4 separate regions of the Homo sapiens genome follow, and all the other regions are linked to region 1. Evidence: fine-mapped expression QTL. A gene starts in region 1. Each other region holds a variant in brackets. All regions are shown on one strand. Distances are between the middles of the regions.

Region 1 (8,064 bases):
AAAAAAAGGTGAATCTGTCAAACTTTCTTTTGTCAATTAACATCAAAGACGTAGTGCTATCCCAGCACTTTGGGAGGCTGAATTAGCTGGGCGTGGTGGTGGATGCCTGTAATCCCTGCTACTCTGGAGGCTGAGGCAGGAGAATTGCTTGAACTAGGAAGGTAGAGGTTGCAGTGAGTCAAAATCACGCCACTGCACTCCAGCCTGGGCCAAAGAGCGAGACTGTCTCAAAGAAAAAAAAAAAAAAAGACAGTGCTGAGAAATCTTGTTCTCTGCCTGGCCAACATGGTGAAACCTCATCTCTACTAAAATACAAAAATTTGCTGGGTGTGGTGGCGGGCACCTGTAATCCCAGCTACTCAGGAGGCTGAGGCAGGATAATTGCTTGAACCCAGAAGACGGAGGTTGCAGTAAGCCGAGATCGCACCATTGCACTCCAGCCTGGGCGACAAGAGTGAAACTCCACCTAAAAAAAAAAAAAAAAAAAAAAAAAAAAGGAATCTCATTCTCTAAAATCAGAGACTGTCAGAAACTTTGCTGTTTGAAATCACATCAGTGAGAGCAGAACATCCCACGCTTCTCTAGTGGGTCAGAAGAGCCAGGTTTGATACAGAGACATAGCCTGTATCTACCCAGATGCAGAGCTTCAGATAAAGGGTTTTTGGACACAATAGTCTATATTTGTCTTACCTTTGTGGTGTCCAAGGAAACAAGACTCTGAGTCTGATTCTCAGCCCACGCCAGATGTTAACCCCTTTACACATTGCCAGCTTTGCTTTGCACCTATCAACACGGCTTCATTTCAATTTCACCTAAACTCCAACCTCCTCCAAATCCTATGATAATCCCATTTCTTCTTTTGTTTGGTGAGACCCTCCACAGTTTCTCTGGTGTGTTGTCTCTCTTGCTACATCAAGTTAATAAGCCTAATTTTGTTAAACTACAGCTACATCCCTAGTGGTCTTTTTCAGATTGGATTTGTCATAAAATTCAGGCTTTCTCTTTTCTTTTTTTGCTTTTGAGATGGAGTCTCACTCTGTTGCCCAGGCTGGAGTGCAGTGGTACAATCTTGGCTCACTGCAATCTCTGCCTCCCCGGTTCAAGCAATTCTTCTGCTTCAGCCTCCCAAGTGGCTGGGGTCACAGGCATGCACCACCACACCCAGCTAATTTTCTATTCTTAGTAGAGATGGGTTTTCACCATGTTGCTTAGGCTGGTCTTGAACTCCTGACCTCAGGTGATCCACCCGCCTCAGCCTTCCAAAGTACTGGGATTACAGGCGTAAGCCACCATGCCCAGACCTTTTTTTTTTTTTTTTTTGAGACTGAGTTTTGTTCTATCCGCCCAGGCTGGAGTGCAGTGGCTCAATCACAGTTCACTGCAGCCTCAATCTACTGGGCTAAAGTGATCCTCCCACTTCAGCCTCCCAAGTAGCTGGGACCACAGATGTGCACCACCACACCAGGCTGATTTTTAAAAAATTTCTGTAGAGATGGGTCTCACTATGTTGCCTTGGTTGGTCTCAAACTCCTGGGCTCAAGGGATCCTCCTGCTTCAGCCTCCAAAAGTGTTGGGATTACAGGTGTGAGCCACCACGCCCAGCTGCTCTGTTCCTTTACTCACTCATTGATCCATTCATTCAGTGTTTGTCCAGCCTATGCTCAGTTTGTTGTTGTTGTTCGTTTTTTTTGAGATGGAGTTTCACTCTTGTCGCCCAGGCTGGAGTGCAATGGCGTGATCTCAGCTCACTGCAACCTCCGCCTCCCAGGTTCAAGCAATTCTCCTGCCTCAGCCTCCTGAGTAGCTGGGATTACAGGCGCCTGCCACCATGCCTAGCTAATTTTTGTATTTGTAGTAGAGACGGGGTTTCACCATGTTAGCCAGGCTGGTCTCGAACTCCTGACCTCAGGTGATCCGCCTGCCTCGGCCTCCCAAAGTGCTGGGATTATAGGCGTGAGCCACTGCGCCTGGCTCCTATGCTCAGTTTTTGTTTTTTTGTTTTTTTTTTTTTTTTTGAGACAGAGTCTTGCTCTGTCGCCCAGGCTGGAGTGCAGTGGCGTGACCTCAGCTCACTGCAAACTCCGCCTCCCGGGTTCACGCCATTCTCCTGTCTCAGCCTCCCGAGTAGCTGGGACTACAGGCACTCGCCACCACGCCCGTCTAATTTTTTTGTATTTTTGGTAGAGATGAAGTTTCACCGTGTTAGCCAGGATGGTCTCGATCTCCTGACCTTGTGATCCGCCCATCTCGGCCTGCCAAAGTGCTGGGATTACAGGTGTGAGCCACCGTGCCCGGCCTATGCTCAGTTTTAAGTACTGGGGTCATGGTGGTGACAGGGCAGACAAAGTCCTTAGCTTTGTGGACACTGCCTCTAGTGGATGAGATAGAAAATAACTAGGTAATCACAAAAACAAAGTAACAGGTTATAAAGGAATTGGAAGGGTGCCCGGGGTCGGGGGATAGAGGAGGTGGGCAGAAAAGGAGACGCTACAGTTGAACTGGAACCTGGGTGAACAGATCTCAGGAAAGAGCACTGCAAGCAGAGATCAGCAAAAGAAGTGAAGATGAGGCCGGGTGCGATGGCTCACGCCTGTAATCCCAGCACTTTGGGAAGCCGAGGTGGGTGGATCGCTTGAGGTCAGGAGTTCGAGACCAGCCTGGGGAACATGGCAAAACCCTGTCTCTACTAAAAATACAAAAATTAGCTGGACAGGGTGGTGCAAGTCTGTAATCTGAACTACTTGGGAGGCTAAGGCAAGAGAATCACTTCAACCCAGGAGGTGGAAGTTGCAGTGAGCTGAGATCATGCCACTGCATTCCAGCCTGGGTGACAGAATGAGACTCTGCCTCAAAAAAAGGCTGGGCGTGGTGGCTCACACCTGTAATCCCAGCACTTTGGGAGGCTGAGGTGGGCGGATCACCTGAGGTCAGGAGTTCGAGACCAGCCTGGCCAATATGGCGAAACCCCGTCTCTACTAAAAGTACAAAAAATTAGCCGGGTGTGGTGGCTCGTGCCTGTAATCCCAGTTACTCGGGAGGCTGAGGCAGGAGAATCGCTTGAATCCGGGAGGCAGAGGTTGCAGTGAGTCGAGATCACACCATTGCACTCCAGCTTAGACAACAAGAGCGAAACTCCGTCTCAAAAAAAAAAAAAAAAAAAAAAAAGAAGTGAAGATGAGCTTGTCAGATTGTCAGATTTGCAAAATAGCCAGAAGGTCAGTGTTCTTGGAGCAAACTGAGTGAGCAGGAGGGTGGGGAAAGATGAAGCACAAAGGCTGAATTTTACCTGGGATGATAAAATAATCTTACACAAGCCGAAACGTATATACTTTCACATAAATTTATGTGCCTATGAAATTGGAGTTGCTCTGGGACTCAAGCGGCATCCTTGCCCCAACCCCTGCTGTTTTCTGAAGCATTCCTAAGGAACCTTAGAGTGTGGGAGAGAGAAATAGCAGGAAGTCCTTAACCTAGTCCAACCCTTTTATTTTACAGTTAGGGAAACCTAAGCTGAGAGAGGAGATGGAAACCTGGTTGTAGGAGTGAGTGGGGAAGGGTTCACGGTCATTCTGGTAGGTAGGGGTAGGGCCAGAGCAAGGAGTCCTGGTTTGTGAACCACCAGCTGGCCGTCTAGGAGTTTACAGACCAGCAGTGGCAATGTTGACAAAGGGCATATCTTCCTTTCCCCAAGAACATTGGCTCTGGAGCAATAACCCAGCAATGGGGGCTTTGGGGTGTCCCTCTTAATCCGGTAGCTCAGCCCATTCGGATATGCCAGCTGGAAAGAGAGAGGGAGAAGTCAACTGAGTACCTCTCTCTAACAGCTCAATCCCTCCCCTTCAGGGTTAAGATCGGGGCTGCAGTGGTTAGCATCTCTGCTTCCTCTAGCCGGCTGTGTCATTGAACCTGTGTGATCAGACGCAAACCAGATCAGTATGACTTCAAAGCTTCATCTTTGAGATGGAGTCTTGCTCCCTCGTCCGGGCTGGAGTGCAATGGCGCAATCTCGGCTCACTGCAACCTCCGCCTCCCGGGTTCAAGCAATTCTCCTGTCTCAGTCTCCCGAGCAGCTGGGACTATAGGCGCCTGCCAGCACGCCCGGCTAATTTTTGTATTTTTAGTAAAGACTGAGTTTCACCTTGTTGGTCAAGCTGGTCTCGAACTCGTGACCTCAGGTGATCCACACGCCTCTGCCTCCTAAAGTGCTGGGATTACAGGCGTGAGCCACCGCGCACGGCTAAAGCTTCAGTTCTTAACCATCAGGCGACAGTGCGTAGTCTGGTAGCAACTGGAAAAGTCCTGCTGAGATTTAGCCTCCCATACACACAGAGTCCCACCCCGGACAGGCTGTATCAACCCCCCACGGCCATATGCCCACTGCTGTTTGCGTACAATGAGGCGGGACCTATAGACTGTATCCACTGACTCATCTGGAGTGATTCCGCGGGGCGCCAATACAAGGACCACTGTCTCCAAACAGCAGCCAGCCACCCCTCTCTCTTGGTTTCCTTCCTTTGAGTGGTGCAAAGGCTTAAGGGTGTAACCTCAGAATGGGGCCCTGAATCAGCTGTGGGCGAGCTCCTAGAGTATCTTAATTCCTGCTTCATCTCTTTCCATTTTGCAGTTGGGCAAACTGCGGCTCAGAAAGATAAAGAACTTCTCCGGAGCGAAAAAGCTGCTAAGAATGTATCCAAAACTCCGCACGGTAAGGACTGAGGACGGTCAAAAGACCACCAAGAGTTAAAACCATGAAGCTGCGTAGTACCGCGGAGGCTAGAGAGACCCGGCCCACCCCTTCCAACCTATGCCCCTCCTCTTAACTTCCGGGCGGGGCATGACTTCCGGTTCCCGCGCGGCGCTCCAAAGCTCGGGGAGTGGTGGTCTCCCTTTCCTGGAGTCATTTGTGGGAGTTAGGGTCTTATCCTGATCTTTCCTCGTCCCCCGCTCCCCCGTCCTCCGAGGTGGCAGCTGCGTAGGTGAACGTTCCCCCTGTCCCCTTCCTTCTCCTTCCTAACCCGAGTACGCTTGCTCGCGGCCACAGTGGCTGCCTGCCCCAGGAGCGGGGAGTCCCTGCCTTTGGGGTAGGGAAATGACTGAAATGTGGGACCTGCGGGCTCCTCGGGCTGACTTGGACCTCACTGCAGCTCTGGAGGTGGACCTCGTCCTGGGACCCTAGAAGCCCATTTCCGCACTCGGGCTAGGCCTTCGGAGCCGCGGCAGCATAGTGGGAGGAGTCGGGCTCAGCTCCCCCCCACCACAACCGGGATTATTTTTATCGGTTGAGTCATCGCACTACCTTTCATCCTTGTGGCTTTGGGCAAGTCCCCGCCCTCCGAGCCTCACTTTGCTTATCTGTGAATGGAAATAACAGTGCCTACCCCATGGGCTATCGGGAGGATCAGTTGTGAGGGAATGCAGTGTGGGGTGTCTGGCCGGCAGAATTCCACAAATGGTAGCAGCGGTTGATGTCACTGGAGGTTCCTGGGGCAGTAATTTATCAAGAGTTTATGATCCTGAACTAAGGATCATACGGAGGAGGATCTGTGTATAACGTTCGGCACAATGTTAGATAGGAAGTAAGGGCGCAGTGCACTGGAGTTATTTTTTCTTTTTTTTTTTTTTGAGACGGAGTCTCGCTCTGTCGCCCAGGCCGGAGTTGCAGTGCCGCGTTGTCGCCTCACTGCAACCTTCTCTGCCACATGGGTTCAAGCGATTCTCCTGCCTCAGCCACTCGAGTAACTGGGATTACAGTCGCACATCACCACGCCTGGCTAATGTTTTGCATTTTTAATAGAGACGGTTTCACCATGTTGGCCAGCCTGGTCTTGAACTCCTGATCTCAGGTGATCCACCCGCCTCGGCCTTCCAAAGTGCTAGAAGTATAGGCATGAGCCACTGTGCCTGGCCTGGAGTTATTTTTTCTCACTGGGTTTTTGAGCAAAGAAAAGGAGTTATTAACTGGTGAGGATAAATTTGTGTTTGGTAAGTCGTCTTCTGAAGCTGACAGGATTTATAAGCCGGGTAAATTGTGGTGCTGGTTCATCTTTGAGAGCCAGCCTTAAGAATTGGCCCACTGACTGCTGGGCGTGGTGGCTCACATCTGTAATCCCAGCACTTTGGGAGGCCGAAGCGGGTGGATCACCCGAAGTCAGGAGTTCGAGACCAGCCTGGTCAACATGGTGAAACCCCATCTCTACTAAAAACATAAAAATTAGCCAGGTATGGTGGTGGGCACCTGTAATCCCAGTTACTCGGGAGGCTGAGGCAGAGAATTGCTTGAACCCAGAAGGAGGAAAGGTTGCAGTGAACCGAGATCACACTACTGCACTCCAGCCTGAGCGACAGAGTGAGACTTGTCTCAAAAAAAAAAAAAAGGAAAGAAAAAGGCCCACTGACAGTCTGTTCCTAGAAACCTGGGTTGTAAAGACGTTGGGTGCTGGGAGCTAGAAGAAGTAATAAAAGGGTGTTTTCCTAAGTGGGTTAGGGGTTTTCACTCAGAAAGGTTTTTGGGCAGGAGGGGAAAGCCTGAGAAGTTTTCTTCCTCTTGAGTTGTTATAAAAGTAATACATGTGTGTAGTTAGAAAACAATGCAGAAAGATGTAAAATGAAAAGTGTTTCCCCCTTCTACTGTTTCTGCCCTTCAGAAGTAAATACAATTAATTTCTTTGATAACTTTCTATCTATTATTTGGATATATCAGGTTTTATTTATTTGTATCTGTATTTATGTATTTTTAATTTCCTCAGATCGGGGGTCATACTACACATCGATCGGGACCTTAGTCATGTTGTGATATGGACAGCTTTCTTACCAGTACTCATAAGCCTGCTTCATTTTTTACGTGGCGGCACCACTGAGTGGTTGACGGTACTTCAGTCATTTCCCTGTTGATGGTCACTTAGGTTGTTCCCAAGATTTTGCTTTCCCACAGTGTTTCACCCAACCTTTCTTGGACGAAATATTTTAGTCCAACTCACCCTAAGTGATTCTGCTTTTCCCTATTCACCACCCTAGGTTAGTAACAGCTTACTTTGGGGGATGAGCACACCTTATTAACTGAGCAAAAACCAAGATAATGTGAGAAGAATTGGTGTACTCCCAAGAATATCCAAGGTGCTGGGTCTAGAATCAATTAAAGTCTCCTAAGAAATGGGTCAGGGAACCTTTAGAGAAGGGATGACTAGGTGCTGGGTGCACGGCAGCTAGTCAGCGTTAGTGATTGTTGGCTTCTGTCAATTGTTGCTCAGGAAACAGATTTGAGAGATTCTCTGAGGTGGGAAGGATTTTAAATGTCAGCTCTCCTGCTATGTATTATATGTCTGGAAGGGATTAGTTCTTTGAGGGAAGAGAGTATTAAAGAAAACAATGGGCCGGGCACGGTGGCTCACACCTGTAATCCCAGCACTTTGGGAGGCCGAGGCAAGGGCGGTGGATCATGAGGTCAGGAGATCGAGACCATCCTGGCTAACATGGTGAAACCTCATTTCTACTAAAAATACAAAAAAAAATTAGCTGGGCCTGGTGGCACGTGCCGTAGTCCCAGCTACTCAGGAGGCTGAGGCAGGAGGATTGCTTGAACCTGGGAGGCAGAGGTTGCAGTGAGCCGAGATTGTGCCTGGGCAACAGAGCAAGACTCCGTCTCAAAAAAAAAAAAAAAAAAAAGAAAATGATGATCCTTGAAAAGTGACTGCATCATGGGGCTGTATCCTAATGTGAGAATTAATTTAGTCATTTCTGTTATTTGAACTCTCTTGTTTTAAAGTTAATTAACATAGGATGTGTTTTCCTGTAAATAACTCCTCTTTTGAACTGGGGCCCTAGCCCAAATGAAGCAAAGGCTTTTTTTCTGGCATTTTACAGGTATTTAATTTGCCTCCCGCCCCGCCGCCCCCCACGGCTATAGCTGGTTTGATAATCCTGGAGCTCTCAAATATCCAAAGAGTTGGAAGTGTACTCTATTAGGATTTTGACAAGTCCCATACACTGATCAGAGGTGCTTCATTCTTGATCTTAACCTGGGTTCTTTTTTTTTTTTTTTTGGAGACAAGGACTCTGTTGCCCAGG
Region 2 (8,064 bases), 91 kb after region 1:
GTTCTCACAGGAGTCCTTTGAGATGGGACAGATGGGGAAGCTGTGCAACTTCAGCTCTCAGGCTTTTCCCACCACACTATTGCCTGTTGTTTTGGAGAGCAAGTCTCAAGTCCCCTCTCCTCACACCCTTCTGATTTGAGGGATTGAGCCGCTCCTCTCAGCCTCCCTCTTTCCCAGTTGAAGCTGTCTGAATTCATAGCAGCAGCCCTGGATCCTCTTGGTCACTTCTCTGGATCCACTCCAGCTCTATGATGAATCAGAGGGGCAGCAGCTCGCCCTGTCCTGGCTGCGATAACCATCAGCCATTCTTGAAGCTTCCCAGGTGGCTCTAGCTGCTGTCCAAGAAGGGGATGGGGGAGGAGGCCCAGGTTGCAGGAGGTGCTGGAAGGAAGGAGGAGGAGAGATGGGAGAAGAGAGATCCAGCAAGCAAATTCTAGTGTCACCTAAACCTGATGAGACCAGGAGCTTGGAATGCCATTCTCCACATGCCCAGTATATACTTCCCTCACTCTTAAGGAAAGAGCCAGTGTTCTGGCCAGTGACTACCGTCAGCATCCCTGATAGCCCTTCCCAGTCCATATAGCACTTCTCCATACAGTGTTTCACTTGGGCCTCCAGCAACCGTAATGGTGGAAGTGTGAGGTCAGGAAGCCTGTGTAGAGTGGAGGCTTTAGAATTAGAACTGGGTCCAGTCCTGGCCCTGCGGTATCTTCATCTCTACTTTACAGATGAGGTTGAGAGGTTTATGAACTTGCTTCAGATTCCTCAGGCTGCCAGCAATGAGGAATGAGACCCCAGGTCTTCTGATGCCTAGAAAGAGGCTTCATGAGGAAAGAAGGGAGAAGCAAGCATCTATAGAGCTCTGGTTAGGTGCTGGTTAAAGTCCTGCTTAGGAATCTGCTTGTTTCTGTGTACTTACGATCTGTTTGTTTTCTTTCAATTTCCTAGTAAAAGATGTTTTTGAAAAATACCTCCCTGTTTGGCTGAACTGAAGGGAAAAGGACTCGTCAACTCATCTATACCTTGGTTCAGGCGAGATGCTCTAGAGCCAGGTGTGGGAGCAGCCCAAAAGGGGTTTGGACTGGATTGTCAGCCCCTTCCTGCTGCAGGCAGGCACCTGACAGCCAATCTGACAGGCCTGGAGCTGGGCCTGAAGTTCTTCTGCCACGCCAGCCAGGGAAAGGGGTGGGGGGAGGGCTGCTGTTTCCAGCTATGGCTTTGTCAGCTCTAGCAATGTGACTCCAGGCTTCCTCATCCCCTGCCTTAAAGAGAAAACTGTAGAGCGATGTGTAATTCTCCAGCAGAGTGACAGAGTTCAGCTTAGCCCAGCCAGAGACAGATTTCATGCTCCTGTATGGGGAGGAGGGGTAGGCTCAAGGCTCTGAAGCCCTCTGGCCAGGAAGCACCAAGGGTAGGTCTACGCCAGTAGTGGAGTGAGGGAAGTGGAGGGTCTGTGGGACTGAGGAGGGGCTCTGATAACATATTCCATCCTGACCAGCAGGCTGAAGCCTTAGGTTCCGGCCTTGGGCAAGTCTCTTCCCTTCTGTAGGTCTCAGTCTCACCCGTAAAATAGCGATGAAGCCTACACCTGCCTCTTGGTTGGTTTATCTGACAGGAAATGTTTGTGTTCACTTGCTTGCCTATGAACGTGACATGGGATAATGCTAGTAAATGGTGCTTTAGTGCAGGCCTGACCCACGGTCAGTGAGTTGCTCAGTAAATGGTGTGGTGTTGAGTATTGATAATTAGTAGTGTCCTGCATCACTCTCTCAGGGAGGCCATGTCTGTTGCTTTCTCAAGTAGAAGCTTCAAGGAGGCAACTGTTCCTGATGTCGCTACAAAGTCCATTGTTGACCCTTATATCTGGCAGGAGGCCTGTGAGGACTTAAGAAAAAAAGGGAGTCCTTGGGTAGGTGAGGAACCAAATTGAGGATGGAGGCTTTGGCTCAAAAGGGGGATCAGAGCTGATGAAGGTGGAGTTGGTCTGGAATCAAGAAGGGGGGCTAGGCTGGGTGCGGTGGCTCACGCCTGTAATCCCAGCACTTTGGAAGGCTGAGGCGGGTGGATTACTTGAGGTCAGGAGTTCGAGACCGGCCTGACCAACATGGTGAAACCCTGTCTCTACTAAAATACAAAAATTAGCTGGGTGTGGTGGCAGGCGCCGGGAATCCCAGCCGCTTGGGAGGCTGAGGCAGGAGAATTGCCTGAACCCACGAGGCAGAGATTGCGGTGAGCCATTATTGTGCCACTGTACTCTAGCCTGGGTGACAGAGGGAGACTTTGCCTCAAAAATTAAAAGAAGCGGGGCTACATGAGAAGCGCCATGCCTGGGGTCTGGGTTCTCCCAGTGGCTGCCGAATTGAGCTAATTAAGCCCAGAGGAGCCACTGCCTGGTCCAGGACCAGTCTGACAAAACCTGTCCTGGGTCCTTTCCACTGGCTTTTGCACCATCTTTCACAGTGATCAGTTTCTGGGCCTCAGTTCCTTCTCCTGGGTCCCCCTTTCCCTTCTTTGTTTTGAGGGTTCTACCTTAGCCTTCCCAAGTCTTGGGGTGCTGGTGGGGCTAGAGACTGGCACTGCTCCAAGGTCATACACACAATCTGTTCTCTGGCTTGACTGAGCTCCTTGAGGGCAGGGGCCAGGTCTGAGTTGCCTCTGGCCTTTCCCTGTCCAGCATTGAGCCTGTAATCCTTGGGCCCTGACCAGAGGGCCCAGCCCTTGCTGGTCTCAGTTGTTGGACTGGCCAAGGTGGCACAAGCTTGCATGGGGCCTTCTTCCTCACAGGTGGCACGAGGAGGTGGGGTGTGTGCTGAATTGGAATACATGGCTCCTTGTGTCCAACTTCCTCTTCCCGACTGGCCCAAGGCTTGGGAACAGTGGCTGCCTTTTTGGGGCAGCCAGGGCACCTGGCCAGAGTGTGCTCTGTCGGGCACTGTCAGCTCTTCAGCAGGCCCCGGTCCTCCTCTTAACCTAGAGAAGGCCCTGGGTTATTGGTGTTGTTCTTGGCGGACCACCGAGCCCCTCAGCAAACAGGGAGGTGAGTGTGCACCCGGTCTAGGCCTGTTTGTGTTGGCCTCGCCAGGCGGGGGATTAGCTCAGCTGGGCTGCTAATTGCCTCCGAAGTGCCGGCCGGGATGCTGACAAGGGCTGGGCCTCCAGTCCCCTCCTCCCGCAGCAGGCACTGTGCCAGGCTTGGGGGCCTGGCCCAGAAGGGCCCCTTCTCTCCCCTGTCAGCGCCTGCTTGGCCTAGACCCTTGAGATGTGGGCAGGGGGTCACCAGGACTGGCGGCTCAGGAAGGAATCGGGGGAGATGCTTATGAAGTCATCGACTGGGCCAGGCCAGGCTGTGTTCCACACACCCCTCCCCCACATGCCTTAAGACCGCCTCTCCAGCTCCCCTTCTGAATCAGACACTTTCTCCTGAAGCTCAGCACTTTTTTCCTCTTACTAGGAAGCTGCTGGGCTCCTTTGCCCAGACACCCTCACCTCAGTCGCTGCTCTGAGCTCCCACAGCATCTTCTCTCTTCTTGTCTCTTTCTCCCTGTCTTCCTCATGTCTGTCCTCCCTCTCTGCCTTTTCGTCACTCTGTGTCTAGCCTTTCTTAGTCTCCCGCAGTTGTCTAGTTCCTAGACTTCCCTTCTGTCCTGTTTTCCTGTGTTCTCTGGCCTTTGCTTGGCCTTTACTGCTCCCCAGACTTCCCATGGACTGGTTGTTCTCAGGAAGAGGCTGAGAAGGAGGTCTACTTTGTCACTGCATTTTCACGGCTCTCCTAGAGAACTTCAGGCCCAAGCTCTGAGGGCAGCTACGAGGATAGAGCCTGGACACAGGCTCTCTGCAAGCGGACCCAGCCTGGGAGCCTGAAAGTCTTACTTCCGTCCCCACAGGCAGAGCGCTTGGGGCCCACTACACCTTTTCCTGCAGCTCTGGCACTCCTGTCTGCACTTCCGACTTGGCCCTGCTCTCTGGCCTTGCCCTGCTTTTCCCAGACATTGGGATCTCAATCAGCCCCTCCAGCTGGTGCCCAGGGACAGCTTTGCTATAACCTTGTTGGCTGCTGCCTGGGTCTCCTGGCCTCTGGGATTCTCTGCTCTCCTATTGGGGTTTTCTACTTTGGGTAAAGATCTGCCTGCTTCTGAGCTCTGGGTAGGGTCAAAGTCTTGCAGCACCTGCCTCAGCCCTCAACTTGTTCCATGTGAATTAGAGGGATTGAGCCACTCCTCGTTTCATCCCCCCTCCTGCTCTCTTCAACTTACAATGACCTCAACTGCCATGACCTTAACTGCCTCCTAGGTTCCTGAAAAGGGAATAGTAATATTTCCAGTGAGAGTTGTCTGGGAGGGTAGACACAAGGAGAAGAGGGAGAATTAGAGAAGATGCTGAGGGAGCTCAGGGCAGCAACTGAGGTGAGGGCATTTGGGCAAAGGAGCCAGCAGTTTTCTAGAAGAGTTGTTGAACTTTACCAATGTTCTCTTATTTAACACCCCCAATAAATAGATTCTATTATTATCTAGCCCCATTGAAGTATGTGTTTAAGGGGGTGGGACAGGCCCATTTTACAGATGAAGAAATGAGTCTGGGAGAGGACAATGAATTGTCCAAGGTTTTATCTAGTGAAGAAGTGGCAGTGCTGGGATCCAAACCAGGTCTATCTGATTTCAAAGCCTGGGACCTTTGCATAGTGCTAGAAAATGGTTCAGCATGGTCACCTTGACTTCTTGGTTTGGTTTTGTTTTGAGACAGGGTCTTGCCCTGTTGCCTAGGCTGGAGTGCAGTGATGCAGTCTCAGTTCACTGCAACTTCTGTCCCCAAGGCTCAAGTGATCCCCACTCCTCACCCTCCTGAGTAGCTGAAACTACAGGTGTGTGCCACTGTGCTAGGTTAATTTTTGAATTTTTTGTAGAGGTGGAGTTTCACTATGTTGCTAACCTTGACTTATTTGCTGCTCTGGTACCCTCTATCCCCTCTCCCTGCCTTTCTGAGGATGAGGTGTCCTTTTTTGTCCACCCATACTCTATACCGTGTCCGGGACCTCCCTTTGTCTATTATGCCCCTGCCCCCGATTCTTCACAAATTCATAAGCACCCCTGCTGTCCTGAAAGCACTTTTCTTTAGCCCTTTACCCTGCTAAGCCTTTGGAAAGCTGAGCACAGAGCAGCCTACCCACTCCCCGGCTGCTGTGAGTTTGCTGCAGCGGGGGTGGGGGATAGGCCATGGCCTACCTTGGTAAGAATAAGGACTTCACTTAGTTAGAATGGAGGTTCCTGAGAAGCCACCCTGGATCTCCCATCAGCAACGAGTTCCCTTGGCTGTGGCTTTAGACTTGAGTTACTTGAAGTTTTCCACCCAGACTCCTTATTCTAATTGGATTCTAATCCTGGAGTTTACCTGTGAGCCATAGTCCTTGGATTCCCATGTCTCAGGACAGAAACTAAGTCCTTTTCCCTCATCCCCTACCTCCCATGTCAGTACCCAGTTTACCAGGCCCTCTACTCAACCAGGCCCTCATCAATACTCTTGAAAGATCTGACTAGGCCAAGGTTTAAGTAGCTGGTCATGACCCAGTGAAATGCACACGAAGAAGCCTTTGTGTGTTAACAGTGAAGTTTCAGAAAGCATGCAGGTGGGTCCTTGTGGCCCTCAAACCACCTATTAAGAAGGCAAAGGGGCCCCTATATATAGAATTTGCTACTATTTGTCTGCTATTCCCATGACCTTCTCCAAGTCTCTTCTCCCTATTCTATAAAAAAAGTCACTGTCACAATTGCAAGATAAAGAAATAATTGTTTTATCGTGCATCAGACTATGTCATGGGACGTCACAATGGCAAAGAGCCTAGTATAAAAATTGGAG[G/T]ATGGGGTGGGGCAGCAGAGTGGGTTAGCAGCATCCAGAGCTGGGCTTTATCCAGCCCTAGGCCTCAGGGCATCACCTTTGCCTTGGGACGAGAGGAGAGTGGTTTGGGCAGGATGTGGACCCTCTGGCCAATTTCCAGGCCACGGTGAGGCCAAGAGGGGGTGGGCTATGTAAGGGCTGTGCCAGTTCCCCCTGGGACAGTTTGGAGCTGGGCATGTCCAAAGAAGCTCCTTTTCCTGTGGCTGTGGATTTCTTTGATCTCTGCAGCACTGGCGGTGGTTGGCCTGGGCAGTGGTTCCTAGAATTTGGTCTCATTAACCTAGGTCGCAACCTTCAGAACCCCAGGAAGATCAGCTTTAGGAACTCCCTGGCAGGTGAAAAGGGCAGTTCCCATCATACCAGCATCCAGCCTGGACCTACTGTTCCCTGGATGGGGAGAGTGGCTCAGCTCTTTCCTCTGGGAGGGGAGGGGTCCTCATTGTTCCCTCTTTCTGGGTCTAGCCTCTGCTAGTGAGGCATAGTATTTTTTTTGGGCTTAGTAGACAGCTGAACAGCCAGCCAGGGGAGCAGCGGACCCAGCTGGGCAGCTGTGGCGACAGTTGGATCAGCTTTCATCCACATCAGAGCTGGCCTGCCCCAAGATTATCAACCACATTTGAATGTGGCTCCAGCACCTCACTTGGTTTTGGCTTCCTCCTTGTATGGACATTGAGCAGAGATCTTGGCTGGGGGCCAAGGGTGTTGACCCTCTTTTCATGAGGGAGCCAACACTAGGAGGCACAAACCACAATGCCTGGAGAAGAGTTTCTGCAGGCTGGAGCCCATATTCCGAATCTCGGACGTTGAATTCAGCCACTGAACACAGGAGCCAGGAGCTTGGAGTCTGGGAACCCCAAGTGGGGGATCACAGAGCATAAAATCTCCGACCTGAAACTTAGAGCCCCAGTGTGGGGGCAGTCTGGAAAGTGGGCTTACAGCAACTTCCTCTGGTGATTGGGAGCCCATCTGAGAAGCAGATGGGTCAAGGGCAAGGTCTTGATCCATGCATGTCCTTCTCACAAGCCTGGGCGGGGCTCGTGATGGTTTGGCGGTTGTACAGGGTCAGGCCCAGGTTGCTGGTGCTGTCTCTTGGGAAATCTTGCAGTACCTATGGTACCTGGGACCCCAGGGACTCGGATGTGCTGGGGAGGGGTGCACCACACTGCTGAGACCTCACTGTCAGCCTTCCAGCTGTTCACATCTTTCCTCAGAGCCTGTTCTGCCCTTAGGAACCATGTGGGCTCCAGCTCAGCCTGTGGTCTCTGGCTCCTGCTGCTTCCCTGCCCCTTTTCGTCCAGCCAGAACCCCTGCCCCAGGCTCAGACCCAAGAAGACCTGCAGTTTCTCTACCTTTGGGTACAAGAACCAAGGAGGAGGCTTGGCTGGAGGACTCTTCTGGCCCTGCCTGTCCATCCAGCTTGCTGTGAGAGGTCTGGGGAGCACTGCCGTCTCTGATGTCAGATGGGCATTAGCATTCTTGGTTTGTCTGCTTCCCAGGACTGTTGTGGCCATCAAGTGAGATGGCCTGTACAGGGCCTAGAACACGTAGTATTTGCTCAATAAATTGTGTTGAGTAAGATAATGGGAGAGGACTTTATTGCACAGCCCTTTCCTCCCTCCCTCTCGCAGGTGTGTGTGTGTGTGTTTTCCTTTTTCAGTTTCATGGAGGAACAGTGCTGTGAAAGGTGACTCAGGGGCATGACTGCAAAGGCACAGCCCTTTCCTCCCTCTCTCTCGCAGGTGTGTGTGTGTGTCCGTGTGTGTGTGTGTGTGTGTGTGTGTGTGTGTGTGTGTGTGTTTCAGTTTCATGGAGGAACAGCGCTGTGAAAGGTGACTCGGGCATGACTGCAAAGGCACAGCCGGGATCCCTGGTCCAGGATGGCAGCCTATATGCCTGCCTAGGTGGGTCTGGGGAGTGGTTAAGTTTCCTCTTCCCAGGGGCAGGCTGGGGCAGGCTGGGTTCTAGGGTGGGACTTCAGTCGTCTCTTGCTCTCATCTCCCTCTTCTTGCCTGGAAGGACCCACAGATATCGAACCTCTAGCTGTCCATGTAAGGGCTGAAATGAACCTGGTGCCCTTGACCTGGTATCTGCTTGTTCCCTTTCTCAGGGCATTTGAGAGACATGGCTTCTAGGCTCAAGCTGCCAGGAGTCCATGTGTATGTGTGCTGGAGAGTT
Region 3 (7,100 bases), 44 kb after region 1:
CTTTTTTTTTTTTGAGAGTCTCACTCTGTTGCCCAGCCTGGAGTGCAGTGGCGCAATCTCACTGCAACCTCTGCCTCCGGGGTTCAAGCAATTCTCTGGCTTCAGCCTCCTGAGTAGCTGGGATTAAAGGCACTTGCCACCACGCTTGGCTAATTTTCATATTTTTAGTAGAGACAGGGTTTCACCATGTTGGTCAGGCTGGTCTCGAACTTGACCTCAGGTGATCCACCCACCTCGGCATTCTGGGATTACAGGCGTGCATTCTGGGATTACAGGCGTGAGCCACCGCTAAATTGCCTGCATATTTGGATTATTTCACGTTGATAGTAAGAGTTCATAGTTGAGTGTTAAGTGCTCTTTGCAGAGTGACTGACAACCTGTGATGGTGATACTATTGTCTCTGTTTTACAAAGGAAACGAGGCTTAAAAGAGTTTTAAGTAGCTTGCCCAAAATCACACAAGAATGGGAATCTGAGCTTTAGGGCTGCTTGATTGAAAGCATATGCCCTTTACTGCAACTCTGTCGTCTTCCTTGGGCATGTTAGAGACTTGAGAAATACTTGCTGTGTGATTAGGTTATTTCGTCTCTTAAAATAGGGCGAGGTGGTTTACAGCCCTTTCTGTAATATTTTGAATCTCTTGGCTACAAATGTGACACTTATTAAATTAAATTGCTCTTTGAGATTGGAATGAAGGGATTTCTGAAAGGATTGATAAAATTAGCAAATAACCCTCCCTAGGAGAAGCAAGGATTTTTCTGAGTTCCCTCTTATTCATGATATTTAGATGCTTTTACTTAACAACTGTTCTGACCTTTTTAGGGCTGTTTCTGCAGATTTTAATTTTGCGTAAGAATAAGGTGCCATATTAGGTATTTACTCTCTGCTAGGTGGTGTGTGTACCAGTTGCTTTATATACATTACCTCATTTCTCTGTAGTGGTCTTGTGAATTAGATGTCAATTTGTAGACGAGAAAGTTAAGGCATAGAAGTGAAGTAACTTGCCAGGATCGTACACATTGAGGTGGAGCTAAGATTGGAACCCATATTTGCTTGTCTTTAAAAATCTCGTCTTTTTTTGGGGGGCGGGGGAGGGGTCAGAGTCTCTGTCAACCAGGCTGGAGTGCAGTGGCATGATCTCAGCTCACTGCAACCTCCTCCCGGGTTCAAGCGATTCTCAAGCCTCAGCCTCCCGAGTAGCTGGGATTACAGGTGTGCGCCACCATGCCTGGCTAATTTTTTGTAGTTTTAGCAGAGACGGGATTTCACCATGTTGGCTAGGCTTGTCTTGAGCTGCTGACCTCAAATAATTGACCCACCTTGGCCTCCCAAAGTGTTGGGATTACAGGCCTCTGTGCCTGGGCGTTTTTTTCATATTACTACTTTAGTCAACAAAGTTGTAAAAGACATTTAAGAATTTTATTTTTTCTTGCCCTTAATATACTGTTCAGTATTGTATTGGCTGCATTGGGACGGGGAATAAAGAAGTATAAGCCTAGTTGTTCTCTCAGAGAGCTTAAAATCTATTAGAGGGGCTGGGTGAGGTGAGGTGGTGCATGCTTGTAGTCTCAGCTACTTGGGAGGCTGAGGCAGGAGAATCGCTTGAGCGTGGGAGGCAGACGTTGCAGTAAGCTGAAATTGCGCCACTGTGCTGCAGCTTAGGTGACAGAGTGATACCCTGTCTCCAAAAAAAAAAATCTATTAGAATAAAGTAAGCATATGTGACTAAAAATAACATGGTTAATTACTCCTGTGATTCATTTATTCGGTGAGTGTGTCCTGTGTGACTGGTATTGAGCTATTTTGTGGGCATACAGCAGTTATTACCTTTATGGAGATTTCCTTATTTTTAAAAGTCTGTTTCTACTGCCATATGACAGATAAACAAGATAATTATAGATTATGACCTTACAATAAAGGAAATAAGGTAATATGAAAGGAGTGTAAGGAGGGAGGGTACTATTGCCCTGGATAATGTGGTCAGGGGAGGACTTTTGGAGGAGATGATGATTCGAGCTGAGATCTGGAGAGTGAGAAGCCAAAAGCTTTAAGAGCAGGGGCAGGAGTGTTGTTGGTAAAGACTTCAAGGCATGGCCGGGTGCAGTGGCTCACACCTGTAATTCCAGAACTTTGGGAGGCCGAGGTGGGCGGATCACCTGAGGTTGGGAGTTTGAGACCAGCTTGACCAACATGGAGAAACCCCGTCTCTACTAAAAATACAAAATTAGCCGGGTGTGGTGGCACATGCCTGTAATTCCAGCTACTCAGGAAGTTGAGGCTGGAAAATCGCTTGAACCTGGGAGGCGGAGGTTGTGGTGAGCAGAGATTGGGCCAAAAAAGACCTGAAGGCAGGACAGAGCCTGGCACGTCTGGGGAGGTAAGAGACCTGTGTAGCTAGAGCATGGAGAGTACAGGGGAACGGAGCATGAGAAGGTTTGAGAAGGCAAGAAGAAGGGCCTTGCCATGGGTTCTGTTTAGTCCGTTTAGGCTTCTTTAACAATACCATAGACTGGGTAGCTTGTAAACGACAGAAACTTATCACAGTTCTGCATCCTGGGAAGGACAATATTGGGGTGCTGGCGTATTTGATGTTTGGTGAGGGCCTGCTTTGTGGTTCATAGATGCTGGTTTTTTCTTTTCTTCTTTTTCTTTTTTTGACGGTCTCACTCTGTTTCCCAGGCTGGAGTGCAGTGGTGATCTTAGCTCACTCCCACCTCCGCCTCCCAAGTTCGCTTTGGTGCTCTCAGCTCACTGCAACCTCTACCTCCCAAGCAAGCGATCCTCCTGAGTAGCTGGG[G/A]TTACAGGCATGCGCCACCGGCTAATTTTTGTATTTTTAGTGGAGACAGGGTTTCACCAAGTTGGCCAGGCTGGTCTCGAACGCCTGACCTCAGATGATCCGCCTGCCTCGGCCTCTCAATGTGCTGGGTTTACAGGCCTGAGCCACTGCGCCCATACCAGTTTGTTCCTTTTTGCTGTGTCTTCTTGCATGGTGCAAGGGGTAGGGGAGCTCTCTGGGGTGTCTTATAAGGCCACTAATCCCATTTGGGGATGAGGGGACTCTGCCCTCTGGACCTAATCACCTCCCAGCAGTCTCACCTTCTAACAACGTCACACTGGTGATCAGGTGTCAGCTTATGAATTTTGGGACACAAACATAGCAGGTGGTCAGGCGGTTGGGGCAGTTTCAATACCTAGACTAGTTAGGAAAGGTCTCAGAGAAGGAGAGGTTTTGTAGTGGAAGGGTAGCTTGAAAATAGGGTGAGTTGTAAGGCCAGACACCCAAGATTTGGCTGAGATGGGAGGATCCCTTGAGCCCAGGAAGGTTGACGCTGCAGTGAGCTGTGATTGAGCCACTCCACTCTGGCCTAGGTGACAGGGTGAGACCCTGTCTCAAAAACAAAAAAAATCTTTAGGAAACCTGTATATTTGAAGATCAAGGGCTAAAAATCCACTCAGTACCATTTAGCAGAGGATGTATGACATCCATTACACATCTGTTTCAAAAACAGCATGTTTCCAAAATTATACATCTCTTTACAAATAAACGTTATAGTATTAATAACTATAGAGGCACCATCAGAACTAGTTACAAAACATGCTGCTAACTTTCACAAGGCATCTCTGAGCCATCTCTTAAGTTCTGTATTTTGATCCCGGGGCTTTAAGAACATTTTCTTTGCTTTAATTAGTTGTAGGTCTCCATTTTCATTGTCTTCATAATTGGCTTGATCTCCCTTTTTGGCAGACTTTTTTCCTGTTGTCCCCACCAAGGTCTCATATTCTAGCCATTTCTTCTAGCCATTTCTTCTTCATCTGACACGTAAAATTCCACTGTTTCATCTTCAATTTCTGCTTTGTTCTTAGTATTCACCTGAAGCACTAATTTCTCAACCTCAGGAGTAAATCTGATGAATGAAATTCCTTCCATAGAAATGATCTTCACATAACAAGAGATGCTGCTCTTCTGTTATGAAATTCTTTACTTATTAAGCTCTGGCAAATCTGAGTACCAGTGCTCTTAACTAATTTTATTTTCTTCCTCTTCTAGTCATTTCTTAGTTTCTGAGTCCAGTCTTCTTTGCATGAACTTCATGTACAGCAGGTTCTTGGAGAACTTGGTCTTGTGCTCAGGTGCCATGCTGGCTTCAGCTTGTGCTGTGTTCTGGCCACCTGCTGTTTCTTAGTTAAGAGACTAGAATGAGAAAGTTACATGTAAGGATGTCAGTTGGTAGTATTATTGAAGGAAGAATATGTAGGGGGTGATGCTTGTTTATTGTCTGTGTACCCCACTGGAATTGTTGCTCCAAGAGGGCGTGAACTTTGTTATGTGAATTGTGGGGTGTGCCTACGTATAGGACAAAGCTTGGCACGTGGTAGGTACTTAGTAAAGGCTTGTTGAATGAATGAGTAGATGAATGAGTAGATCTACAAGTCTTGAGTATTTTGAGGAAAACATCTTATTGTAATCTCCATTTTATTCCTTTTTTTTTTTTTTTTTTTTTTTTGAGACAGAATCTCACTCTGTCCCCAGGCTGGAGTGCAGTGGCACAATCACGGCTCATTGCAACCTCTGCCTCCTGGGTTCAAGCAATTCTCCTGCCTCACCCTCCCAAATAGCTGGGACTACAGGTGAGCGCCATCACACCTGGCAAATTTTTGTATTTTTGGTAGAGACTGGGTTTCACCATGTTGGCCAGATTGGTCTCGAACTCCTGACCTCAAGTGATCTGCCCGCCTCAGCTTCCCAAAGTGCTGGGATTATAGGCGTGAGCCACCACGCTTGGCCGAAACAGGGTCTTGTTCTCTTACCCAGGCTGGAGTGCAGTGGTGTGACTACAGCTCACTGTAGCCTTGACCTTCCTGGCTCAGGTGGTTTCTCCCCTCAGCCTCCCCAGTAGTTGGGACTACAGGCACATGCCACCACTTTTTTTTTTTTTTTTTTTTTTTTTTAATTTTTTGTAGAGATGGGATTTTGTCATGTTGCCCAAGCTGGTCTTGATTTGCTGGGCTCAAGTGATCCTCCTGCCTTGGCCTCCCAAAGTGTTGGGATTACAGGCGTGAGCCGCCACACCCAGCCTTGGTAGAGGTTTTTTTGTTTGTTTGTTTTTGTTGTTGTTGTTTTGAGATAGCATCTCCCTGTGTTGCCCAGGCTGGAGTGCAGTGGCATAATCTTGGCTTACTTGCAACCTCCGTCTCCTGGGCTCGGATGATCTTCAGCCTCCCAAGTAGCTGGGACCACAGGCGCATGCCACCATGCCCAGCTAATTTTTGTATTTTTGGTAGAGACGCAGTTTTGCCACGTTGCCTAGGTTGTTCTCAAACTCCTGGCCTCAAGCAATCCACCTTCCTTGGCTTCTCAAAGTGCTGGGATTGTAGGCTTGAGCCACTGTGCCCAGCCTCTGGGTAGGATTTTCTAAGCAATGTTGTATTCTTAATTGAACATGTAAAAAGTAAAGTAGAGATTCCTCTTCAAAGACTTCCCCCACATCTAATCAGAAATAAATAGTAACTTCTCTTAAAAGCAAAATTTATTCAAAGACCTTTGCTAACATTCTTAAATATCTGCTAGCTGTAATAAATAAATCAGTGTACTTTATGTTCTTAGCTCCCACAATTTAGCCTAAATATTTGCCCTGGCATGCTTATACTGGTCCAAGCAAGCATTAGGTCATAGCCTGTTTAAAGGTATTTTTACCTTTCTCAGCATTCCACAAGTTACTTCCTCCTTCCTTTGTTGTCCTCTGCCTTTGCCTCTTTTTTTTTTTTTTTTTTTTTTTTTTTTTTTTTTTTTTGAGACAGAGTCTCGCTCTGTTGCTCAGGCTGGAGTGCAGTGGCATGATCTTGGCTCACTACAAGCTCCGCCTCCTAGGTTCATGCCATTCTCCTGCCTCAGCCTCCCAGGTAGCTGGGACTACAGGCGTCCACCACCACGCCCAGCTGATTTTTTTGTATTTTTAACAGAGGCAGGGTTTCACTGTGTTAGCCAGGCTGGTCTTGATCTCTTGACCTCGTGATCCGCCTGCCTCGGCCTTCCAAAATGCTGGGATTACAGGCGTGAGCCACCACGCCTGGCCTTCTTTGCCTCTTTTTAAAAGTTGTAAGTTGCTAGCCTATCAGGACAAATACAAAACGTGAGGTCCCGTTCCAGCCAATAAAAACCGGACACAGCAGTAGGATAGACACGTCAGGTTATAAATGACCCTGTCTCCTTTGCTCGGTGTACTTTTGTGGCAAAACTGCTGGCAAGTGTATCCTTTCTGCAGAAGGTATAAATGGCCTTGCTGAGAAAATTAAATTTATGTTCAAGTGCTATTTCTTTACGGCACTGAGGAACAAGCATTTCTTTTTTTTTCTTTCTTTTTTTTTTTTTTTGAGATGGAGTCTCGCTCTGTTGCCCAGGCTGGAGTGCAGTGGCGCGGTCTCGGCTCACTGCAAGCTCTGCCTCACGGGTTCACGCCATTCTCCTGCCTCAGCCTCCCGAGTAGCTGGGACTACAGGCGCCTGCCACCACGCCCGGCTAATTTTTTTGTATTTTTAGTAGCGTCGGGGTTTCACCATGTTAGCCAGGATGGTCTCGATCTCCTGACCTCGTGATCCATCCGCCTCGGCCTCCCAAAGTGCTGGGATTACAGGTGTGAGCCACCGCACCCGGTCGGAACAAGCATTTCTAACAAACATATAAGGCCAGCTGTATGCTTTTTGTTACATGTCTTCTGTGATATAGAAGCAAACAAGAAGTTCTGCAAACAAGACAGTTTGTTAGCACACTTGCATACGTGTGTGAATGCATGGAATACATTGCTGTGGTTTGAGTACTTTTGGTTGCCTAAAAATCACATGCATGGGTAGGTGTTTAAAAAATTGTACGTTAGATATGCTACTATAACTTACAGCAGAAGGTTATATAAGCTGCATTTTCCAAAGTGGCTGGATTTGACAGGAGAGACAAGTAGTTTTGATTTTATTCTGTTTAATCCTACAACCAGACTAGTCCTTCTGTTGAACTGATAAGGAAGATTGTGAAATTGGGTCATTCTCTTGATTCCTGTAGTGCCTCTTCTTTCTTGTATCCTAAGTATGAAAATGGGTTACTTCAGGGGC
Region 4 (5,590 bases), 20 kb after region 1:
TTTTAGGAGAGACGGTGTTTCACTATGTTGGCCAGGGTGGTCTCGAACCCCTTACCTCAGGTGATCTGCCTGCCTCAGCCTCCCAAAGTGCTGAGATCACAGGTGTGAGCCAGCGCACCCACCCAGCCTCGTTTTAATTATTGTTTGTCCCACTGGGAGTCCTTAATTCCTTGAGTAGGGATTGGTCTTATGGTCTTATTGTATTTCTTTTTTTTTTTTTTTTTTTGAGACGGAGTCTTGCTCTGTCGCCCAGGCTGGAGTGCAGTGGTGCGATCTCGGCTCACTGCAAGCTCCGCCTCCTGGGTTCACGCCATTCTCCTGTCTCAGCCTCCACAGCAGCTGGGACTACAGGCGCACGCTGCCACGCCCTGCTAATTTTTTTGTATTTTTAGTAGAGACGGGGTTTCACTGTGTTAGCCAGGATGGTCTCGATCTCCTGACCTTGTGATCTGCCAGCCTAGGCCTCCCAAAGTGCTAGAATTACAGGAGTGAGCCACTGCGCCCCGCCTATTGTATTTCTTTAACAGATTTCTATTGAGTATGCACTATATTCTAGCACTGAGGGTACAGTGATGAAGCAAGTCCTTGGATTTACTGGGTTTTACTTGGCTTTAATGGGAGGAGACAGTAAGAAAAATACAGAACTGAGACCATTTCAGATAGAGATAAGCACTATGAGGGAAGCAAAGCTGCGTGTGATAGCAGGTGGGGGGTGCTAGTTAAGCTGAGAAGGAAGAGGTCTTCTTGAAGAGGTGGTATTGGAGCAAATTCCTGTGGGGTGGAAGGGAGCAGGTGTGTACAGATAACCAGGGGGAACAGCAAGAGCAAAGCCTCTGAGCTAGGCAGAATAAATTCAGTGTGTCCGAGGAACAGCAACCAGGGCGGCATGGCCGGAGCCCAGTGAGTGAGTACGTGGTCCTGATGAGATTGGAGAGATGGACAAGGGCCTACACGATGGGGACAGAGTTGCTCAGTTATTTCTGGACTTTACTCTTTCCCCTATCCTTTCTCATCCACCCTTGTTCAGTGACCCAGATTATCTTTGCCAGAGATGTGTAAGCAAGATGAAGGAGGCAAGCCTGGGCCAGTTAGAGAAAAGGCAAGAAGGAAACAGGTTTGGTGAGTTCCTCCCCTTTCTCTGCCTCCAGGAAGGGTTCAGGTCCCTAGACAAGCATAATGATGTGGGCATAAGTGGAGGAGGGAGGCTGAACAGCTGGAGGGGCTGCAGAGGGAGCAGATCCCTTAGTGGAGGCAGCCCCAGCAGCTGTAACCCCTTGTGGTGCAGCAGGTAAACCAGGAACACGGCTGGAGTCCTGGCAGTAGGGTTGGGGGGCTCCTGGAGAGGTCTGGGCCATGACCAGCCAGGGGAATCAGGAAAGAGGGGTGGGCTGCGGTCTCAGTGATATGAATTATACAACACATCAACCTTTTGGCAACAACAGAGATACTTTAATATATTTATTTTCAACTTTAATTAATTTTTATTTATTTTTTTGAGACGGTGGTCTCACTCTGTTGCCCAGGCTCAAGTGCAGTGGTGTGATCTTGGCTCACTGCAGCCTTGAACTCCTGGCTCAAATGATCCTCCCACCTCCTGAGTAATTAGCACTACAGACGCACACCACCATTCCCGGCTAATTTTTGTATTTTTTTTGTAGAGACGAGGGTCTTGCTATGTTGCCTAGGCTTTAACTTTTTTTTTTTTGAGACAGAGTCTCACTCTGTTGCCCAGGCTGGAGTGCAGTGGCATGATCTCCTCTCACTGCAACCTCCATCTCCTGGGTTCAAGTGATTCTCCTGCCTCAGCCTCCCAAGTAGCTGGGATTACAGGCACCCACCACCACACCTGCTAGTTTTTGTATTTTTAGTAGAAATGGGATTTCACCATGTTGGCCAGGCTTGAACTCCTGACCTCAAGTGATCTGCCCGCCTCAGCCTCCCAAAGTGCTAGGATTACAGCCTTGAGCCACTGTGTCTGGCCCTAACTTTTATTATTTATTTATTTATTTATTTATTTCGAGACAGAGTCTTGCTCTGTCACCCAGGCTGGAGTGCAATGACACCATCTTGGCTCACTGCGACCTCCGCCTCCCGGGTTCAAGCCATTCTCCTGCCTCAGCCTTTCAAGTAGCTGGGACTACAGGCATGCATCACCATGCCTGGCTAATTTTTGTATTTTTAGTAGAGACGGGCCCTGTTGGCCAGGCTGGTCTTGAACTCCTGACCTCAAGTGATCCACCTGCCTCAGCCGCCCAGAGTGCTAGGATTACAGGCATGAACCACTGCACCTGGCCTTTTATTTTTTAATGAACTATTACACATACGAAAAGCAAATAAAACATGTACCATAGAATAAATAATGATAAGGCAAACATCCATGTAATCATCACCCAGGTCATGAAATAGAACACTGCCAACACTGCCCCCCCAGTACCCCCATCCCTTCCAGATTCTAACCCCCTTTAGAGGCGGCCACTAGCTGAATTTGTATGATAATCACTTCCTTGGTTTTCTTCGCAGTTTTTGCCTATGAATCACACAGAAAGTCTTAAATTAGAATTTTCTCACACAAATCCCAAGCCTGAAGACCTTGGAGGAGAGCCTCTTTAATGTAGATCTTCTTCTTCTTTAGTAAATCTTGGCAGGCCCTTGGGGAGATGGTGGTGGATTTGCAGTCTTGCATTTGGCAGAGAATGCAGTATGAGGCTTCTCTCATTCAGCCAAAGTGTTCTAGGGATCTGAAGAGGACTGTGAGGGGCACAGCAATGCATCCAAAACCAAGCTTGCCCCTGGGAGCTTGCAGTAGGGTGGAAAAAGTGTGGGTAAACATGATAGCCCAGACAGAGGGCCTGGAGAGGGGCTCTGATAAGGGCTCTGGGGGTTTAGAAGAGCCAGCAATCCCTTTTGGCAGTGGGAAGCAGAGCTGGCTTTGTGTAAGAGGTGGTG[G/T]TGTATGCATTCATGCATCATTTATCAAACATTTTTGAGGGATGGCAGTGTGCCAGGAAATTAGGTAAAAAAAAATAAAATGAATAAGATCTCTGCCTGCTTATGGCCTAATAGTTTAGCATAAATAGATACAAATAATTCCAATATGAGATGCTTTAAATACAAAGTGATATAAGACTGATTGGTTGCCTGGGGTTGTCGGGAGATTTCAAAACTAAGGCCTAGGCCAGTCCTTGAAGGAGAGAAGAGTGGAGTTTGGCAGACAGAGAAGGGAGCCACTGAATCCACAGAGGCACAGAGGTGGGAAAGGACACAAGGTGGATGTTGGCAAAATGTACAGTTCATGGTGGGAAGAAGAGTGGACTTGACATGTAGGATGGATAAGCAGGAAAGGTGTTTTAGGGAAGAGGATCAGCATGAGCAGTGGCAGAGAGGTGAGAAGTCATGGTTCCTGCCTGTATGATACTAAGTATTATACAGTCTAGCTGTAGCATAGGTGTGTAGTGGAAGGTGTGATGATTAATTTTATATGTCAACTTGACTGGGCCATGGGGTGCCCAGATATTTGGTCAAACATTATTTTCGGTGTGACTGCAAACTTGTTTCTGGATGAGATTAAGATCTGAATCAGGAGACTGAGCAAAACAAATTGCCCTCTCATCCAATCAGTTGAAGGCCAACATAAAACAAAAAGGCTGACCCTCCCTTGACTGAGGGAGAATTTTTCTTGCCTTCAGACTTCAAAGAGAAACACTGGCTCTTCCTCTGTCTTGAGCCTGCTGGCCTTTGGACTGGAACTGAAACATCAGCTCTCCTGGTTCTCAGGCCTTCAGGCTTGGACTGGAGCTACACCATTGGCTCTCCTGGGTCTCCAGCTCAGTGACTCACCCTGTGTATCTTGGGACTTGTCCTCCATAGTCGTGTGAGTGAGCCAATTATAATAAATCTCTTATAATAAATCTTTCTCTCTATATATATATATGTATATTTTATATATAGAGATTATTATATATAATTTATATATTATGTATGATTATATAATATATAATTTATATATTATATATAGACCATTCTATATGTATATATAACCACTCTCTATATAGAGAATGGTTTTATTTTTATTATTATTTCGAGATGGAGTCTCCCTCTGTCGCCCAGGCTGGAGTGCAGTTGTTCGATCTCGGCTCACTGCAACCTCCACCTCCTGGGCTCAAATGATTCTCCTGCCTCAGCCTCCCAAGTAGCTGAGATTACAAGCACGCATCACTACACACAGCTAATTTTGTATTTTTAGTAGATATGAGGTTTCACCATGTTGGCCAGGCTGGTCTCGAACTCCTGACCTCAAGTGTTCCACCCGCCTTGGCCTCCCAGAGTGCTGGGATTACAGGTGTGAGGCACTGCACATGGCCAGAATGGTTTTATATGTAATATATAAATAATATATATTACCATTCTATTGGTTCTGTTTCTCTGGAGAACTATGACTAATACAAAAAGAAAGGGAAATCACTTTGGAAAGGCAAAGATCATAGAGGACATAGAATGTCTGGGTAAAGTCTTAAATTTTTTTTTTTTTTTTTGAGATGGAGTCTCTCTCTGTCACCCAGGCACTGCAACCTCCACCTCCTAGATTGAAGCGATTCTCCTGCCTCAGCCTCCTGAGTAGCTGGGATTACATGCATGCACCAACATACCCAGCCAATTTTTGTATTTTTAGTAGAGATGGGGTTTCACCATGTTGGTCAAGCTGGTTTCAAACTCCTGACCTCATGATCTGCCCACCTCGGCCTCCCAAAGTGCTGGGATTACAGGTCTGAGTCACTGTACCCAACCAAAGGTCTTAAATTTTATTCTGAAGACAAAGGAGAAAACACTGAAGGTTTCTGAGTAAGGGAGTGACCTAATCAGAGCGATGATATAGGAAGATAAATGCTGTGCTTTGTCAAATGAGTTAAAGTAGAGATTCTTTTTTTTTTTTTTTTTTTTTGAGACGGAGTCTTGCTCTGTGGCCAGGCTGGAGTGCAGTGGTGCGATCTCTGCTCACTGAAACCTCCGCCTTCCGGGTTCAAGCGATTCCCCTGCCTCAGCCTCCTGAGTAGCTAGGACTACAGGTGAGCGCCACTATACCCAGCTAATTTTTTGTATTTTAGTAGAGACAGGGTTTCACCATGTTGGCCACAATGGTCTTGATCTCCTGACCTCGTGATCCTCCCGCCTTGGCCTCCCAAAGTGCTGGGATTAGAGGCGTGAGCCACCGCACCCAGCTGAGATTCTTTTTATTTATTTTTTTGAGACAGGGTCTTGCTTTGTCACCCAGGCTGGAGTGCAGTGTAGTGCACTGGCATGATCATGGCTCACTGCAGCCTCAACATCGCAGGCTCAAGCGACCCTCACATCTCAGCCTCCCCAAGTAGCTGGGACTACAGGTGCTTGCCACCACACGGTTTTTATATTTCTTGTAGAGATGAGGTCTCAGTATGTTGCCCAGCCTGGTCTCAAACTCCTGGGTTCAAGTGATCCTCCCGCTTCAGCCTCCCAAAGTGTTGGGATTATAGGCATGAGCCACCATGCCTGGACTAAAGCAGAGAGCTTGAAGGGAGCCTCTAGAAATTAGATATGAATTTTGTGGGTATAGGATCTG

Which allele goes with the higher level. Positions count from the first base shown, and alleles are read on the strand shown. Sizes are in standard deviations (SD) of each study's normalised expression. Not every link is listed here.
For the expression in neutrophils of the gene that starts at base 4,524 in region 1, G is the low allele of the variant in region 2 and T is the other (large effect, 0.89 SD a copy in Naranbhai 2015).

The links. PIP is the estimated chance that this variant, and not a neighbour inherited with it, causes the effect.
Region 2: its variant is the best candidate, but not a certain one, in a credible set for the expression of LINC00339 in neutrophils (Naranbhai 2015, PIP 0.51).
Region 3: its variant is the best candidate, but not a certain one, in a credible set for the expression of LINC00339 in monocytes after interferon gamma (Fairfax 2014, PIP 0.59).
Region 4: its variant is the best candidate, but not a certain one, in a credible set for the expression of LINC00339 in prefrontal cortex (ROSMAP, PIP 0.76).

What each region holds. Positions count from the first base shown.
Region 1 is chr1:22,020,668-22,028,731 of GRCh38, forward strand. It overlaps LINC00339 (long intergenic non-protein coding RNA 339), which reads left to right and starts at 4,524. Exons shown (of 2, transcript NR_023918.2): 1 at 4,524-4,705. It overlaps LINC01635 (long intergenic non-protein coding RNA 1635), which reads right to left and starts at 5,381. Exons shown (of 3, transcript NR_110692.1): 1 at 5,297-5,381; 2 at 4,139-4,299; 3 at 3,327-3,778. RefSeq lists a silencer at 2,253-2,372 and enhancers at 4,809-5,410, 5,022-5,131, 5,209-5,503.
Region 2 is chr1:22,111,544-22,119,607 of GRCh38, forward strand. WNT4 (Wnt family member 4) reads right to left here. Exons shown (of 5, transcript NM_030761.5): 5 at 5,770-8,064. Among named protein-coding and RNA genes, the nearest start is that of WNT4, 28 kb to the right of the region's middle. RefSeq lists enhancers at 4,862-5,031, 6,525-6,574 and a silencer at 7,590-7,759. The variant G/T (reference allele first, on the strand shown) is at 5,851.
Region 3 is chr1:22,064,691-22,071,790 of GRCh38, forward strand. All of the region lies in intron 1 of CDC42 (cell division cycle 42), which reads left to right. It also overlaps the pseudogene MPHOSPH6P1. Among named protein-coding and RNA genes, the nearest start is that of CDC42, 16 kb to the left of the region's middle. The variant G/A (reference allele first, on the strand shown) is at 2,797.
Region 4 is chr1:22,042,272-22,047,861 of GRCh38, forward strand. No RefSeq gene overlaps it. Among named protein-coding and RNA genes, the nearest start is that of CDC42, 7.6 kb to the right of the region's middle. RefSeq lists an enhancer at 2,862-3,031. The variant G/T (reference allele first, on the strand shown) is at 2,947.